2 linked regions of the Homo sapiens genome follow. The protein of the gene in region 2 binds, or shares a complex with, the protein of the main gene of each other region. Each region holds a gene or a part of one and is shown on either strand. Other genes may lie near its edges. A codon is read from its position in the direction of its gene.

The links.
Region 1: the proteins of GABARAPL2 (region 2) and IRGQ are in contact, whole or in part, in a crystal structure (PDB 8Q6Q), measured with the Homo sapiens proteins. Residues at the interface, in NP_009216.1 of Homo sapiens: Ser10 (codon at 4,663), Glu12 (codon at 4,669), His13 (codon at 5,003), Cys15 (codon at 5,009), Val16 (codon at 5,012), Glu17 (codon at 5,015), Ala19 (codon at 5,021), Lys20 (codon at 5,024), Ile21 (codon at 5,027), Ala23 (codon at 5,033), Lys24 (codon at 5,036), Tyr25 (codon at 5,039), Arg28 (codon at 5,048), Pro30 (codon at 5,054), Lys46 (codon at 6,231), Lys48 (codon at 6,237), Tyr49 (codon at 6,240), Leu50 (codon at 6,243), Val51 (codon at 6,246), Pro52 (codon at 6,249), Phe60 (codon at 6,273), Ile63 (codon at 6,282), Arg67 (codon at 6,294), Phe104; in NP_001007562.1 of Homo sapiens: Asp7 (codon at 2,367), Thr9 (codon at 2,361), Leu11 (codon at 2,355), Pro47 (codon at 2,247), Leu49 (codon at 2,241), Phe57 (codon at 2,217), Pro70 (codon at 2,178), Trp71 (codon at 2,175), Glu74 (codon at 2,166), Pro181 (codon at 404), Ala182 (codon at 401), Gln183 (codon at 398), Asp184 (codon at 395), Gly185 (codon at 392), Phe186 (codon at 389), Glu187 (codon at 386), Val188 (codon at 383), Leu189 (codon at 380).

The regions. Positions count from the first base shown.
Region 1 is NC_000019.10:43,592,954-43,600,767, forward strand, and holds the start of IRGQ (immunity-related GTPase family Q protein), read right to left. Parts: upstream 3,182-7,814; 5' UTR 3,029-3,181; intron 2,388-3,028; 5' UTR 2,386-2,387; coding exon 1,856-2,385; intron 415-1,855; coding exon 1-414. Other genes in the region: ZNF576 (zinc finger protein 576), read left to right, coding at 4,156-4,240, 5,878-6,305. UniProt on the Homo sapiens protein: Autophagy receptor that specifically promotes clearance of misfolded MHC class I molecules by targeting them to the lysosome for degradation.
Region 2 is NC_000016.10:75,561,852-75,569,378, forward strand, and holds the start of GABARAPL2 (gamma-aminobutyric acid receptor-associated protein-like 2), read left to right. Parts: upstream 1-4,527; 5' UTR 4,528-4,635; coding exon 4,636-4,669; intron 4,670-5,000; coding exon 5,001-5,056; intron 5,057-6,185; coding exon 6,186-6,358; intron 6,359-7,527. UniProt on the Homo sapiens protein: Ubiquitin-like modifier involved in intra-Golgi traffic. Modulates intra-Golgi transport through coupling between NSF activity and SNAREs activation. It first stimulates the ATPase activity of NSF which in turn stimulates the association with GOSR1.

The sequences.
Region 1 (7,814 bases), on a different chromosome or scaffold from region 2:
TGGGCCCAGTCCTTCTCAGTGGGGGCCCCAGGGGTGACGAGGATGAGGGCGTCGTAGTGCGTTGGGTGAGAGGCGGCGGCCGCGGTGGTGGCAGTGCCCGTGTGGCCCAGAGGCACGGTCCAGAGCACCACATTCGGGCGCTCTGGGGCTGGGAAGGGAGTGGGTGCTGTGGGGACCGAAGCAGGCGCAGCGCCTGGGTCGCCAGGATCCAATCCAAGCAGCATGTCCACCACAAGGCCCACGTCAGCCTTGCCAGCCACGGCCAGGTCTAGCCGTGCGCTGCCCAGGCGCTCCAGGCCTGAGCGCACCCACGACAGCGCAGCCTCAAGGCCGCCGGTCTCAAAGGCCTCACGCACAGCCTCTAGCTCTGCTGCACCCAACACCTCGAAGCCATCCTGCGCCGGTGGCAGGAGCCTGTGGGGACAAGAAGGGACAGGGTCAAAGGTAGAAGAGGGGCTGGGTGACATGGACTGGGCTATGATGACAAGGGCAGAGCTTTCCTAATGATCCCAGAATGGGGCAGGGGTAGGAAAGGGAAGGGCCAGACTGATGGCACAGCAAATAGAAACCAGATAGGGAGAGGCAGTGATGATATGGGTGGGGCTTCAAGCAATAATGGAGTCTTGATTATTGGACGGGTGGACATAAGGTCAGGTTTCCCACCCCAGCCTAAAATGGGGATTGGGCTAAAACTTCCATGGAATACAGTATTTGGGGGCGGGGTTTTTCCAAGGGTCGGCTGTGCTGGGTGGGACAAAGCTCACAGAGGGTGGGGCCTAGAACAAAGAATCGCAACTGTATTGTGGCCTAAACACAAGTCCAGCACTATTTGAGACAAGGTCCCCAAGGGCACTCTTTTCAGGGGCTGGGCCTAAGGAGGGTCAGTGAGGGGAGAAATCTCATCTACCAGTTCTTACCAAGGGGGAGTGGCTAAGGTGACTCCCGGGCAGGTGAGGCTAAGGAAAAAAGATGACAGTGTACTGGGACAAGGGACTGTCCCTCTCTGAGCCTCGTTTTAAAGTCTTTAAAATGAGGAGGCTGGCAGGTGGTAGAGCAAATCCAGGAGGTAGCCAGCAAGTGGGCACAGAAACAAGAGGGAGCTGGAGAAAGGAGGTAGATGAGGATGCCCCAAAATAATAAAGCTCATTGCGGGTGTGGCTTTAGGTGCTTGAAAACAAAACTGATGGTGGGGAGGGCTCAAAGATTAGAGTTTTCAGGTAAAATCTTCCAGGGGGCTGGGCAGAGAGTCTCACGACTGTAATCCCAGCACTTTGGGAGGCCAAGGAGGGTGGATCACCTTGGTGGGGGCAGGGCCTGGAAAAAGGAGCCTCAGGGCCCCAGCAGATAAAGTGTTAAGCCTTTCCCTTTTAATTCTAGGGCTTTGGGAAGCCTGGGTGGGGGCATGGCTTGAGGCCAAGAGTTCAAGACCAGCCTGGGGAAACAGTGAGATGCTGTTTTGCAGCCTGTAGTATTAGCTACTCTGGAGGCTGAGGCAGGAGGATCATTTGAGCCCAGGAGGTGGAGGCCGTCAGTGAGCTAGGATCGCGGCACTGCACTCCAGCCTGGGCGACAGAGTGAGAACCTGTCTCAAAAAAAAAGGCCGGGTGTGGTGGTTCACGCCTGTAATCCTAGCACTTTGGGAGGCTGAGGCGGGAGTATTGCTTAAGGCCAGGAGTTCAAATTCAACCTAGCCAACATAGCGAGACCCTGTCTCTCAGGAAAAAAAAAAAAATAATAATAATAGAGCTAAGCCTTGCCCCAAACTCACTGGGGGAGGGATCTCATGGACCTCCATGGTCGCACCTAGGTGCCTAGGGTCTCGACTAACGGACCCAGCCAGAAAGCCGGCACTCACCTCCGCAGCGCTTCTGCCTGGCTCTGCAGCGCCGCCCGGAGGCGCTCTAGCTCCTCGCAGCCGTCGCTGCTGCCGCAGTTCGCCGGTAGCACAAACAGATCCGCAGCTCCTAACCCCGCGCTGTTCAGCAGAGCTGCTGTCTGATCACGGGCCTGGGCGGCAGTCTGTGAATCCCCAGGACGGAGGTTCCGCACAGCCAGTAGCGGGGTCCCTCGGGCCAGGGCGGCCAGCGCTGCCTCTCCCAGGGCTGGAGCCAACGGTTCCCCGTTCCCCTCGGGTCCGGGCAGCACCAGTACCAGCACGTTGGCTTCCGCCGCCCAGGGCCCCGGCGCTGCGGGTGGGCAGCTCAGCTCGCCCAGAAAAAGGCCTGGGCCCGCAGCTCTTAGGCTGGGAACCCCGGAGTCCGGCCGTCCCTCGGGGGCCTCGAGCGTCTCCACATCCTTGTCGCACAGCGCTGCGATCAGCGCGGACTTCCCCAAGCCCGGAGGCCCCAGGAACAAGGCGGTCACGTCACCCTGCGGCGGAGGCATGGCTGGAAAGCAACGGGTAGAGAAGACCTGGGTCAGGGAGCACCTAGCCTTTTCCTTTCCTAGCCGCCCCACTCGGAACCCAGGCCTCAGTCCTTCACCCTGTCCCCTTCGGTTCTTGAGTGTCACTCTCCAGGACCTAAAAAATCCAGAGCCCAGACCCTATTCCCCCAGAATCCCAGGCGTCCTGTCTGTCCGCCCTCCCTCTAGATGGAAACGTTTCCCTTTCTGCTTCAAAAACTCTGAAATCAGGCGCGGTGGCTCATGCCTGTAATCCCAGTGCTTTGGGAGGCCGAGGCCGGAGGATCGCTTGAGGCCAGGAATTCGAGACCAGCCTGGCCAACATGTGGGGGGACTCTCTGGTAGAGTCTCCGTCTCGATAAAAAATAAAATTTAGCCGGGCATGGTGGTGTGCGCCTGTAGCCCCAGCTACTCGGAAGGCTGCGGCGGGAGGATCGCTTGAGCCCAGGACTTGGAGGCTGCAGTGGGCCGTGATCACACCACCGCACTCCAGCCCAGGCGACAGAGCAAGACCCTCTCTGAAAAATAAATAAAAATAAAACCTCAGAAATCTGGCTTCCAGTCCCTCCTCCCTCGGACACATTGTTATTTTCATCTTTCCCCTTCCCCCTTCCAAATCACCAACCGAGCAAAAAGCCGACCCACGGGAGAGAGCGCAGTCGGTGGCAGTAGGTCAGCAGCTGAGAAGCCCGGCCCCTGGGCCGCGGCGGACGGAGGCCGAAGAGGCCAGGGAGCGGTGATTTAGAGATGCCGGGACCCGTCCCGGTAGCTTTAACCTGACGTCACTCCCTCTCCCAAGGGGGTGTGTCTTGGAAGGCCGACAGCAGAGACCCAGCCCTTCGCCGCGCCTGCGCAGAACGGCCGAAGTGTGCACGCCCCTCTTTGGCGGCCTCAGGGCCTAGAACAATGAATGAGTCAACGCGCCTGCGCGCCACGAGAGCCTACCCACGCATGCGCAAAAGGCTTAGCTAGCTAAGCCGCGGGAGGCTGAACGTCATCAAACGCGCCATAGGGCAGAGAAGGACCCCTCCCGTTATTTTGAGGACCGGGCTGGTGCGACTATACTACTGCCGGATGGCAAATCCGGGATCTCGGCTCCGAGAGGCTCATCTGGCAAAAGGGCGCGGAAACCACGGGGGCCCTGAGACTGAGTGGTCCCTATCCCACTTCTCTCTGGGGCGGCGCTGTAGCCAGCGGCTGACAGGCGCAGCGAAAGGCAGCCCTCTGCTGTAAGGAGGAAAACTGAGGCCTGGGAGCAGGAACCTGTAGGCAGCGCTTGAGGGTAGCGGGATAGCAGCTGCAAGCGCGCGTGGGAGGCGGGGGCTCTGGGCGGAACAAAAATCACAGGATGTCAGAGGATGTTTCCCGGGAAGAACTGGGATAAAGGGTGGGTATCACTACCTGCCCCAAGACACTTGAGATTGGGATGACGCTGGTGTCAAAGATCAAGGCTTCCACGCTGAGTTCAGGGAGTTAGTTTGATGCAGCAGGTCATAGGTCACACCAGTGAGAAGACTCTAGGGGAGTCCCAAACCCAGGAAATCCAGTCCTTTGGGAGGTTTGAAGCTTCTTTTAGCAAGAACTCCATCAATTAGAGTTCAAGGAGATAGTATGTCGTAGGGGTCAAAGGCAGGCAAGGAGAGCCTCTGGCGATGTCAAAGGTCATAGACTTAGGGTGCCCTCTAAGACTGGTAACAGATGAACAGCTTCACTTATGCACGCTCCTCTCCTGACTAGAAGGGTCCCAGCACCATGGAGGACCCGAACCCTGAAGAGAACATGAAGCAGCAGGATTCACCCAAGGAGAGAAGTCCCCAGAGCCCAGGAGGCAACATCTGTGAGTACACATGGCTGGCGGGCTAGAGGAGGGTGGGGTGCAGGAGCTGATGCTAAGATCTCTGTGGCACTTCGGTGTCCAAGGCGCCACAGAGTTTTGCCTGTTGAGAAGGGGCTGTAATGGTCCCTGAGCTGCTCTAGCAGGAAGTGCATCTCCTCACACCAGCTTATGTGGCCAGAGTACTCACCCTCCTCTGGCCACATAAGCAGGATTGCAATGCTTATGCATTCAGAGGGATAGGGTGGCTTCCAGGAGAGGCTTGGGTTGGAGATGTGGCTGGGAATGGTTCTATTGGGAGAGAAACCCCAAGATTCTGGTCCCAACTCTGCCCTAGACTTTCAGTGTAACTTGGGCCTTGGTTTCCTTGACTGTCAAAAGAGGGTGGTACTTCCCACCTCACAGGGTGGGTATGGGATTAACTGCAGCAAAGGGGAAAGCTAGGGGTTAATGATGGTAGCCAGTTTGACATGTAATAGCAACACCTCCTGCTCAGTGTTTTATTATGAGCTAGGTGTATTTATTCTCATATTATGAACCATTTTAACATTCATTATCTCATTGAGTCCTTCTAATAATAGGCCCTTTAAACTGGGAACTGAGGCAGAGAGAGGTATTTGTAACAAGAGCTGTAGTCTCAATGCCCTTGAGCCAGAGACTACCAGGAACACACCTGCAGTTGAACACGTTGGGTTTCTCACTGCAATGAACACAGACCATGGGGGGACTGTGGGGTGTCTCACTAAGAATGGTAAAAACGACACAGGATTTGGGCTTGTGGGTGGTGATTTTGGGGAAGGTTCAAGCAAAATTGTTTTGCTCTGGATTGGATGCTACCAGGAAGCAGGGGCAATTCTATGATTGGCTATCGTAATAAATCTTACCCAGAAGGAGGAAGGAAGGAGGCGAGGCTCAAGCTCTGACTGATAAAGCAGCAGCAGACATTCACATTAGCCAGGATAGGAGGATGTTTGGTCATTTTTCTGCTTGGACAGTATTCATATTTTGTCTGTGCTCAGACATTATGATGATGTAGTCTTGTCTTGATTCATTTTAGTCACAGCGTGGCCTTGTCTGTCCTTGATATTCTGTGAAAATTTATGTTCAACAGAACACCAAGGTCTAGCTGTGAGTACCAGGCCAGATCCTGGATGTCGGGCTGGATTTCTCTGTATCATTAGTCATAATTGCAAATGACTGTACAGCAATTCATTTATTCCTTCCAACGGTCCTATGGAGTAGATACTGTTATTAGCCCATTTTCCAGATAAGGAAACTGGTGTAATTGCCTAGGAAGTGGTGGAGGTGAGATTCAATCCCAAGCAGTCTGGCTCCAAAGGCTGTGCTGTAATCACCATACCCCTCTGTTGGGCAGGCTGACTCTCTGGGTTCCAACCCTGGCTCCACCATTTCCTTTCCTAGCCTCATGACTATGGGCAACTTGCCTAACCTCTTTGAATCTCAGTTTGCTCATCCATAAAATAGGTGCAAGAACAGTTCTCCTGTTTGGTTGTCCAGCATTAGCATAGAACCTAGCACATAACACATTCAATGTTAATTGTTGGTGTGATTCTGGGGTTCAGGAAGAGGTCTTGGAGACTCCTGCTGGCCTCCCCTGACCTCTCCCCCACATTCCTCAGGCCACCTGGGGGCCCCGAAGTGCACCCGCTGCCTCATCACCTTCGCAGATTCCAAGTTCCAGGAGCGTCACATGAAGCGGGAGCACCCAGCGGACTTCGTGGCCCAGAAGCTGCAGGGGGTCCTCTTCATCTGCTTCACCTGCGCCCGCTCCTTCCCCTCCTCCAAAGCCCTAATCACCCACCAGCGCAGCCACGGTCCAGCCGCCAAGCCCACCCTGCCGGTTGCAACCACTACTGCCCAGCCCACCTTCCCTTGTCCTGACTGTGGCAAGACCTTTGGGCAGGCTGTTTCTCTGAGGCGGCACCGCCAGATGCATGAGGTCCGTGCCCCTCCTGGCACCTTCGCCTGCACAGAGTGCGGTCAGGACTTTGCTCAGGAAGCAGGGCTGCATCAACACTACATTCGGCATGCCCGGGGGGAGCTCTGAGTGCAGCTTAAGCCTCTCCACGGTGACGGGTGGCTCTGTGGCTGGTAGGACTCACCCATGATATGGGGTGCAGGAACTCTGGGGGCCCTGAAGGATTTGCTTCCCTCCCCTGGGAAGGCAGAGGGCTCTTAATAAAGAGGACCCAGAAGATTCTTATTTAGAGCTTCAGTCTTTGGAGCACACAGGGCCTTCGTGAGACAGTGAAATCAGATAATAATGAGATCTTTTGTTAAAAAAAAAAAATGGGAAGGGAGTGCGGGAGAGAAATGGTTTGTGTCTCCCTTATTCCCAGTTAAATACCTAGCTGCAGATTGTGCCATCACCCTTCATTCTTCCCAGATGGATGCCATGGGCTATGGGAGCAAATTGCCCTGGACCTTTGCCTGAATGGGGGCAGGAAAGGTGAGGTGTTGCTGGCCTGTAATGCCACCAGGTGAGTTCCAGATGTGGAGCAACTTGGGCTTTTGGGGATGGGGCAGCAAAGTTGGGAGCTGGACCCCAATTGAGTGGGGGTAGCAATTGGAGTCCTTGTGTCTCTTTTCCACCCCCTGCCATCCTCACTTAGAGGGGCCATGGCACTAGATGGCACTAGTCCCCCGATAATTTATGTCTCGTTGAAATAATTTTGTATATCATTCTAGTCCTGAAATATTTTTTTCATATGTGTAGGTGAAATGGTATGAATAAGCTAACAGGAATAGTATCTAAAAACAGAAAACATCCATATTAAAATGTCTAAACAGGGAGCTCTGGCTTTTGAGTGGGAATTTCCAGAGAACATAAGGGTGTGGGCAGGTGGGGGAACTCAGGCCAGAGTTGGCCTCGCTTTGTGGGGAAACTGGTTTGGAATCAAACAGAGATACCTTCTGTTTCGGGTTTTATTTGGCCAACACTGGGAGATTTCCCATTAAGATCCTATTTTCAGCTCTCTTGAAAGGCCCAACCTAGGCTGACATTGTCAGCAGGGGCAGGACAGAAGTTACAACAGGCTGGAGGGAGCAGTGGGTGTCACCCTCAACTGGAGATGAGTCCCACCAGGCCAGTTTTACCCCCTTAGTTACCTGCCCTGCACCTGCAGACAATGGTCGATGCCTTGCATATAATACTTATAGACTCTGTTTATGTTGAGGGATGTTTTTAAAGCCCACAGGTGAGGTGGATGTGGTAGACTGATCACTGTCTCTGTTTTTAGCTAGGCACACAGTAGCTGAAAAGACTGCATTTCCCAGATTCCTTTGCAGCTAGATGTGGCCTTGTGACTGATTTCTGGCTAAATTCCTGGGTAGAACAGTCAAGCTTAAGAAAGGGACGGCTGGGCACAGTGGCTCACGCCTGTAATCCCAGCACTTTGTGAGGCTGAGGCCGGTGGATCACCTGAGGTCAGGAGTTTGAGACCAGCCTGGCCAACATGGTGAAACCCTGTCTCTACCAAAAATACAAAAATTAGCCGGGTGTGGTGGCATATGCCTGTAATCCCAGCTACTTGGGAGGCTGAGGCAGGAGAATTGC
Region 2 (7,527 bases):
TTAAAACTGCACTTTTTTTTTTTTTTTTTTTTTGAGATGGAGTCTTGTTCTGTAGCCCAGGCTGGAGTGCAGTGGGGCGATCTCGGCTCACTGCAACCTCCGCCTCCCGGGTTCAAGCGATTCTCCTGCCTCAGCCTCCTGAGTAGCTGGGATTACAGGCGCTCACCACCACGCCTGGTGAATTTTTTTTTTTTTTTTTGTATTTTTAGTAGAGACGGGGTTTCACCTTATTGGTCAGGCTGGTCTCGAACTCCTGACCTCATGATCCGCCTGCCTTGGCCTCCTAAAGTGCTGGGATTACAGGCGTGAGCCACCGCACCTGGCCACATTTTTTTTTTCTTGAGATGGAGTCTCACCCTGTCGCTCAGGCTGGAGTGCAGTGGCACTATCTTGGCTCACTGCAACCTCCACCTCCTGGGCTCAGGCGATTCTCATGCCTGCAGCCTCCTGAGTAGCTGGGACCACAGGTGCGTGCCACCATGCCTGGCTAATTTTTGTATTTTCAGTAAAGACGGGGTTTCACCATGTTGGCCAGTCTGGTCTAGAACTCCTGGCCTGAGGTGATCCACCTGCCTCGGCCTCCCAGAGTGCTGGGATTACAGGCATGAGCCACTGCACCCAGCCCCAAATTGCACATTTTAATCATGTTCTTCTCTCCTTTATAGGAGCTCTTATTCAGGGTCTCCTGAATTAGGTTAGAACTTCTGAATGTTTGCTTCAAAGCTTTCCAACATTTTATTTACTTATCTATACTGCTTTTCTGTTCCCTCTTCCAACCCCAGCCTTTGTTTTTATCTGGAAAGGAAAAGTTTACCCAATGAAAATGTACCCTTCTCTCTACAACAGAAGATTCACATTCTCTGTGAAGTCTTCCTTGCTAATTCTCACTTGGCTTTGTGCTGGCCCCTATTGCCCTAGCAATGCCTCAGTATCCATGTTCACATACCTCTCCAACATTTGAAATTCATTCTCTGTGTTTTATAGATTTGTTAATGTGTAATTACGTTGCATATATTCATTATCCTATTTCTCCTCCTGACTTACGTCCTTAACTAACCACTCCCTCAAGGAAGGCATCCAGTGTCCTTAGAACATTCCATAGCTAAATACAATGACCCAATATGTAAAGAAGGTGGTACATATCATCAAGGTGGATGAAATAAGTCAATTAGAATGGTGAACTGGGAAAACACACCAAGAAAGTAGGTAAGGATGGAAGACCAAAATGCATTGCACATCATTGAGACCATCAAAAGACATGTCTATGAATTGGTGTGCAGTGAAATTTTCCCCTAAGAAGTGTTCTCAGCTCTTTCACATGCAAGACAATATACATATATTTTGGACTAGGATGCAATGACCAGCTCTGTAAAGGGAAGCAGGGGTGTTGAGTCCAATTTCTAACTCCTCCACTGGTTCACTGACTAGGAGATGGTGAACAACCATCTTCATTCTTCAGTGTTTAATTCTATTTGTAAAATAGGTATTTTCTTTTTTTGAGACGGAGTTTCGCTCTTGTTGCCCAGGCTGGAGTGGAGTGGCGCGATCTCAGCTCACTGCAACCTCTGCCTCCTAAGTAAAAGCAATTCTCCTGTCTCAGCCTCCCAAGTAGCTGCGATTACAGGCATGTGCCACCATACCTGGCTAATTGTTTTGTATTTAGCAGAGACGGGGTTTCAACACGTTAGTCAGGCTGGTCATGAACTCCTGACTTCAGGTGATCCACCTGCCTCGGCCTCCCAAAGTGCTGGGATTACAGGCATATGCCACTGCACCCGGCCAAGTATTTTCATTTTTAAACTCACTGTCTACCTAATCTTACCCAGTTTAATAGCTTGAAATATTTCTCTCTAAATTTGAGACTCATAGCACCATTCACCAACTCTACATCTTCACTTGTGTATGTCCCTTGGACATCTCATATTTAATATCTCAAAAACCAAACTCTTGTTTTTCACTCCCCAAGCTGGCTCCACCCTATTTCAGTAAATGGCAATTCCATCCTTCCAAAAACCTTGATTTTGATCTGTCCCTCATGTCTTACATCCAATCTATCAGCAACTGTTACCAGTTTTACCTTCGAAATATATCCAGAATACAACTGCTTCCCATCACCTCTGTAGACCCCACCTTGGCCAAAGCCAACATCATCTTTCACCAGGATTATCACAATAGTGTCTCAACTATTTCCCTGCTTCCACCCTCAGCGCCTACAGTCTACTAAGCTAGCCTTTTGAAAAGGAAAGGCAGATTGTGTTACGTCTCTGCTTAAACCCCTACACTGACTTCTCATCTCATTCTAAATAAAATCCAAAGCTCTTTGCATGGAATTCAAAGCTCAACACAGTTTTGTTCTAGATATCTTTGAATTTGTCTCATAACACACTCTCCTCTCTCATTTATTCAGCTCCAGCCACAGGGGTTCCCTAGAATATGCCAGGCACTTTATCTAATTAGCATTCCATCCCACCACACTCTCTAGTCACCTACTGTGCTTTATTTTTCGAAATAGCACCTATCATTACCTAACATACTTATTTTTTGTCTTATCCCACTAGAATATGTCAGGGGGACAAGAATATCTCATGCTGCCACCCATGAGAATAGGGATGTCATCTGTCTTCTTCACTGTTTTTCCCCAGCACCTAGCACAGAGCTCTTGTATGTAACAATAATTTCTAAGTAGGAAATTCAAAGGATTTTTTCCACTTCATTAAAAACAAACAAACAGATGCAGTGGCTCACACCTGTAATCCTAGCACTTTGGGAGGCCGAGGCGGGCAAATCACTTACTTGAGGTGAGAAGTTCAAGACCAGCCTGGCGAACATGACAAAACCCCATCTCTACCAAAAATACAAAAATTAGCTGGGTGTGGTGGTGTGTCCCTGTAGTCCCAGCTACTCAGGAGGCTGAGGCAGCAGAATCGCTTGAACCCAGGAGGCAGACTGCAGTAAGCCAAGATTGTGCCACTGAACTCCAGCCTGGGTGACAGAGAAAGACCCTGTCTCCAAAAAACAAAAACAAAAACAAAGAAACAAAAAAACCTATTCTAGTTACTCAGACACACAGTCTTAAAATAACAAAAATACTTATAGAATGAAGCTAGATTCCACAGCATCGATCAGGAATTTCCAGTGTAGGAAATGATGAACTACCACATTCAAACATACAGGCTTTACAGGTGCATCAGAATCACAAGCACGTGGCAGGGTTCATGTGCCCAATTAAGTGAATATTCCTGCTACATGTTCAGCAGCTTATAAACAGATGGTGACCCAGACCAGACTGCCTTGATGAGTCTGCTTGGAAAAAAGGCATTACATCACTGATTGGAGAACCTCAAAGCATATGTCCGGGCAGGTGACACACACACAGCTCAGGCTGTGATTGCTAAACCACTCCCACAGCCAAATAAGGAAACCCATCTCATGACCAGCTCTCAGGGGAATTCTCCGAGTCTGACAGTCACCTCTAACTCCTCTGCCAGTTAAAATTAAGGGGTCTGTGATCAGTGATGTTACACTCCTCAAATGTGCATTTTTTTTTGAGGCGGAGTCTTGCTCTGTTGCCCAGGCTGGAGTGCAGTGGTGTGATCTCGGCTCACTGCCACCTCCACCTCCCTGGTTCAAACGATTCTCCTGCCTCAGCCTCCCGAGGAGCTGGGACTACAGGCGCCCACTACCATGCCTGGCTAATTTTTGTATTTTTAGTAGAGACGGGGTTTCACCATGTTGGCCAGGCTGGTCTTCAACTCCTGACCTCAGGTGATCCACCCGCGTCGGCCTCCCAAAGTGTTGGGATTACAGGCGTGAGCCACCGTACCCCGCCTCAAATGTGCATTTGTGATACCTTTTCGTAAATGTTTATTCAAATATTTATTCACGAATAAAGGAAGAAAACGGGATTTGTTTAAATTCAATTTCTAGGTCCAAGACAACCTACTACGGCTGTCCCTAATACGGACCTCCGGGTTGTCCTCAGTGCCGCTTCCAACAGTGTCCTCAAACACCCTCCCCTCCCATAATGAGCCCCCAACCTGTCACCACTCCGAGCAATACTCCCCAAACTGTCAACGCCCTAAACAGCTCCCTTGTTATCGCCAAGCTCTAGAAAGCCCTCCTTATGTCATTCTTACCCCTAAAGACCGTTCTTGTCACCAATTCCCCAGACTTCCCCTATGAACCGCTCTAAGAGCCCTCAGCTATCAGCCACACCCCCAAACAGCCCTCAGTAAGAGCCCTACACTATCAGCCAGACGTTTTCCGCCACCAACGCTCCCGAGACCCCACTCCTGTCACCAGTTCCCCGAACATTCCTGCGAGCAATGTCGCAGATACTGCTCACAGACGTCCCCATAACCAACTTCTTCGCCACCGCAGCCCAGGAGCCCCCAAAGGGGTCCTCCGCGGCCCCGCCCCTTTACGTGCGGCCCCGCCCCTTGGCGTGGCGCCCTGACAAATGGCGCCGGAAGCCCCGCCCCCGGCCGGTTGCTAGGCTCCGACAGCCGGAAGTCCCGCCTGCCGTGTAGTCGCCGCCGTCGCTGCCGCTGCCGCTGCCGCCGTCGTTGTTGTTGTGCTCGGTGCGCTGAGCTCCGCGGCTCCGCGAGCCGGTTCCGTCCCCTTCCCGCCGCCGCCATGAAGTGGATGTTCAAGGAGGACCACTCGCTGGGTAAGCACTTGGTCGTCGGCCCGGCTGCTGGGGGCTGGGGCGGCGGGTGGGCCCCCTCCCCCACTCGGGCGGCCCTGGGCCGAGTGGAGCGGGGCGGATGCCCTGCTGCGGGCTGGAGTCGCCCATGCCCTGGTGCCTCGGGCAGCGGCCCCCTGACCCCATGTCACCCTCCGCGGGCCTTGCTGGGAGCTAGTAGGGGACAGGACCGCGGCCCCGGGGACGCCGGAACCAGGGCCTGGGTTGTACGCAGGGCGCAGGAGGAGGAGGGCCGGGGGCCGGGAACCGACCGGTGGGCAGGCGCGGCCGTCAGCCCCGTTTGTTTCTCCCACAGAACACAGATGCGTGGAGTCCGCGAAGATTCGAGCGAAATATCCCGACAGGGTTCCGGTGAGTGGACTCTCCGCCCCCTCACCTCGCTGTCACCTCTGTCGTCTGGGACCCGTGATAGGCCCCAGGCCATTCAACAGTTGACAAGTTGAGGTTCCAGTCCCAGTTACAGTAGCTGACGGGCCAGACCGGGATGAGGCCGCCCAGGGCCGGGGCGTGAGGGGCTCGGGCTGGTGCTGTTCAGGGTGCCTCAGTGCTGAATCTCCCGATCTAGGCCAGCGAGCCGTCTGCAGCCTCGGGGCTCCCTGGCCAATTATGTAAGGAACGATGTTCTAGGACAGGGCAACAGGTCACTGCCACTTTTGGGAATGGTGGTGGAGGGAGACTGTCATTTTGGTCTTGGAAGTGGTACTTGAGTCTCAGGACGTTCATCTTTTACTTTGTCTCCATCTTTACCTAACTTCTAGCTCCGTTATCTCACCTTGACCCTGTCATCCTTGCCTGACCAAAATAATGTGAAAAGCCGCTGAAAACCCCTTCTGCCATATTTTCTTCTTAGTCAATAATAAATATAATGTTATATTTCTTCCATGGTTGGGGAGATAGTTTTGTAATCGTTATTAATTTTTAATGGACATTAAGGCCTGTTATTGTAGCTCTTTGCTTGTGAATAATTTGTCTGGGGAAAGGAGTAGGAGGGACGGATTTGAAACTTGTTCAGAGAGGAGCAACAGGCCAAATGAAGAACTTGGTTCTTGGCTGGCTAAAATTCCAGGCATTCCAATTAGTCCATCCATTCTTGTCTCCTGTGTTCCTTGGGAACACAGTAGTGTTTCCTGTAGTGTGAAGGTGGATCCATTCTGGGGTCCTGGAGTAACGGGCCATGGATGAAACCCTCCCCAGATATTCTTAGGTCTGCCCAGATAAAATGTGGAAAAGCTTAGTGGTAAGGGCTGCATTTCTCTTACATAATTGACCACAGAAAAGCACTTACTGTTTCCCTGTAACACATTTATATCAATTCTTAACCTCCAGAGCGTGTGGTTTATTAAGCCAAAGACATATTTTCTCCTGCTATGCAGTTCCCCACCCACCTCCTTGCCCACACTCTGTTCATCAGCTCCTCAGCCATGTGAGGCCAGAGCCTCGCTTTAGGAAACACAGTCCTGACCTCTCTTTACTTTCCCAGGTGATTGTGGAAAAGGTCTCAGGCTCTCAGATTGTTGACATTGACAAACGGAAGTACTTGGTTCCATCTGATATCACTGTGGCTCAGTTCATGTGGATCATCAGGAAAAGGATCCAGCTTCCTTCTGAAAAGGCGATCTTCCTGTTTGTGGATAAGACAGTCCCACAGTCCAGGTGAGAGGTGTTTACTAGATGGGCCCTCTGGTATTAGACATCTGGTTGGCTGCTTACGGAACTCCAAAACTTTGGAAGTCTGAAAACTCTTAGGGGTCCTGACTAGAAATCTGGATTTTATGCTCCCTGACATCAGGGGCTCCAGGAAAATAATGGCTGCAATACATAAGAGTGCATTTTGGATTCAGAAAATAGAACAAGGCCTGGACTTTTAAAAAAATGATGAAACTCAGCCTAAGATCTCCAAGAATCTTTTAAAACGGTTGAGAACTTATTTAGTCTTAAGCTATAGGTAGAACTGAGGCCTGAAATGAGGTTTTCTTCCCTGAAGGCAGTCCTGGCATGCTCCTCCACTGGGAGCCTGTGGGCCCTGCTGAGGCTCACTCAGTTAATCATCCAGTTTGCTTGCTCCCAAACTTGGTCAACTCTTTGACATTGTAAGAGTCTATAGCTGCCTGATCCTCAAGTCTGACAAAATGACTGCGGCACAGTAAAGGGCTCTGAAGTCTCTTTACAGACTTATACCTCCCTTGGTAGCACTTGCTTTGACTGTCAGACTATTGTGCTGCCTGGAAGCAATCTTTGGGACTGTAACTTGTGGCCTGAATGTAGGCAGAGGCATTAGAATTCCCGTTTTCTGTGTGTTTGACAGCCCAGCTTTAGTCCCCTGTGGAAAAAGGAAAGTGGATGGGCTCCGTCTAACCTCCTGGTCAGTCCTTTCCCGTTACTGAGTGGGTAGTTGTAGGCCCTGATCCAGATTCCAGCCCCCACCTCTCCCCTGAGTGTGAGTTTCTGGCCACATCTTATCTTTGTGACCCAATCTAGGTTTCATTTACCACTCCCAGAAGTAATACTTCTAAAAGTGAAGGCTCTCAGAAGCCCTGGGAACTAGCCCAATGTTGTCCAAATAGGTTCCTGTTGAAAATCCTTGAAGACTCCAGAAGAGGCCTGTGCCAAATTCCAGACCTTATTTCTGTTAAAGGTGGAAAGCTCTGGCCATTTTTTGGTCTGATTTCCTCTTTCCCAGTGTCCTCCACCTCTACTTCCTGGTGTCTGATAGAAAGGCAGGGGAGAAATGGAAGCTCCTTCCCTAAGGCCAGTATTCAACCTGAGGAGACACCCCAGGGCCTGCCCACTGGACGCCATTGGTCTGCCACAGCTGTAGCTCT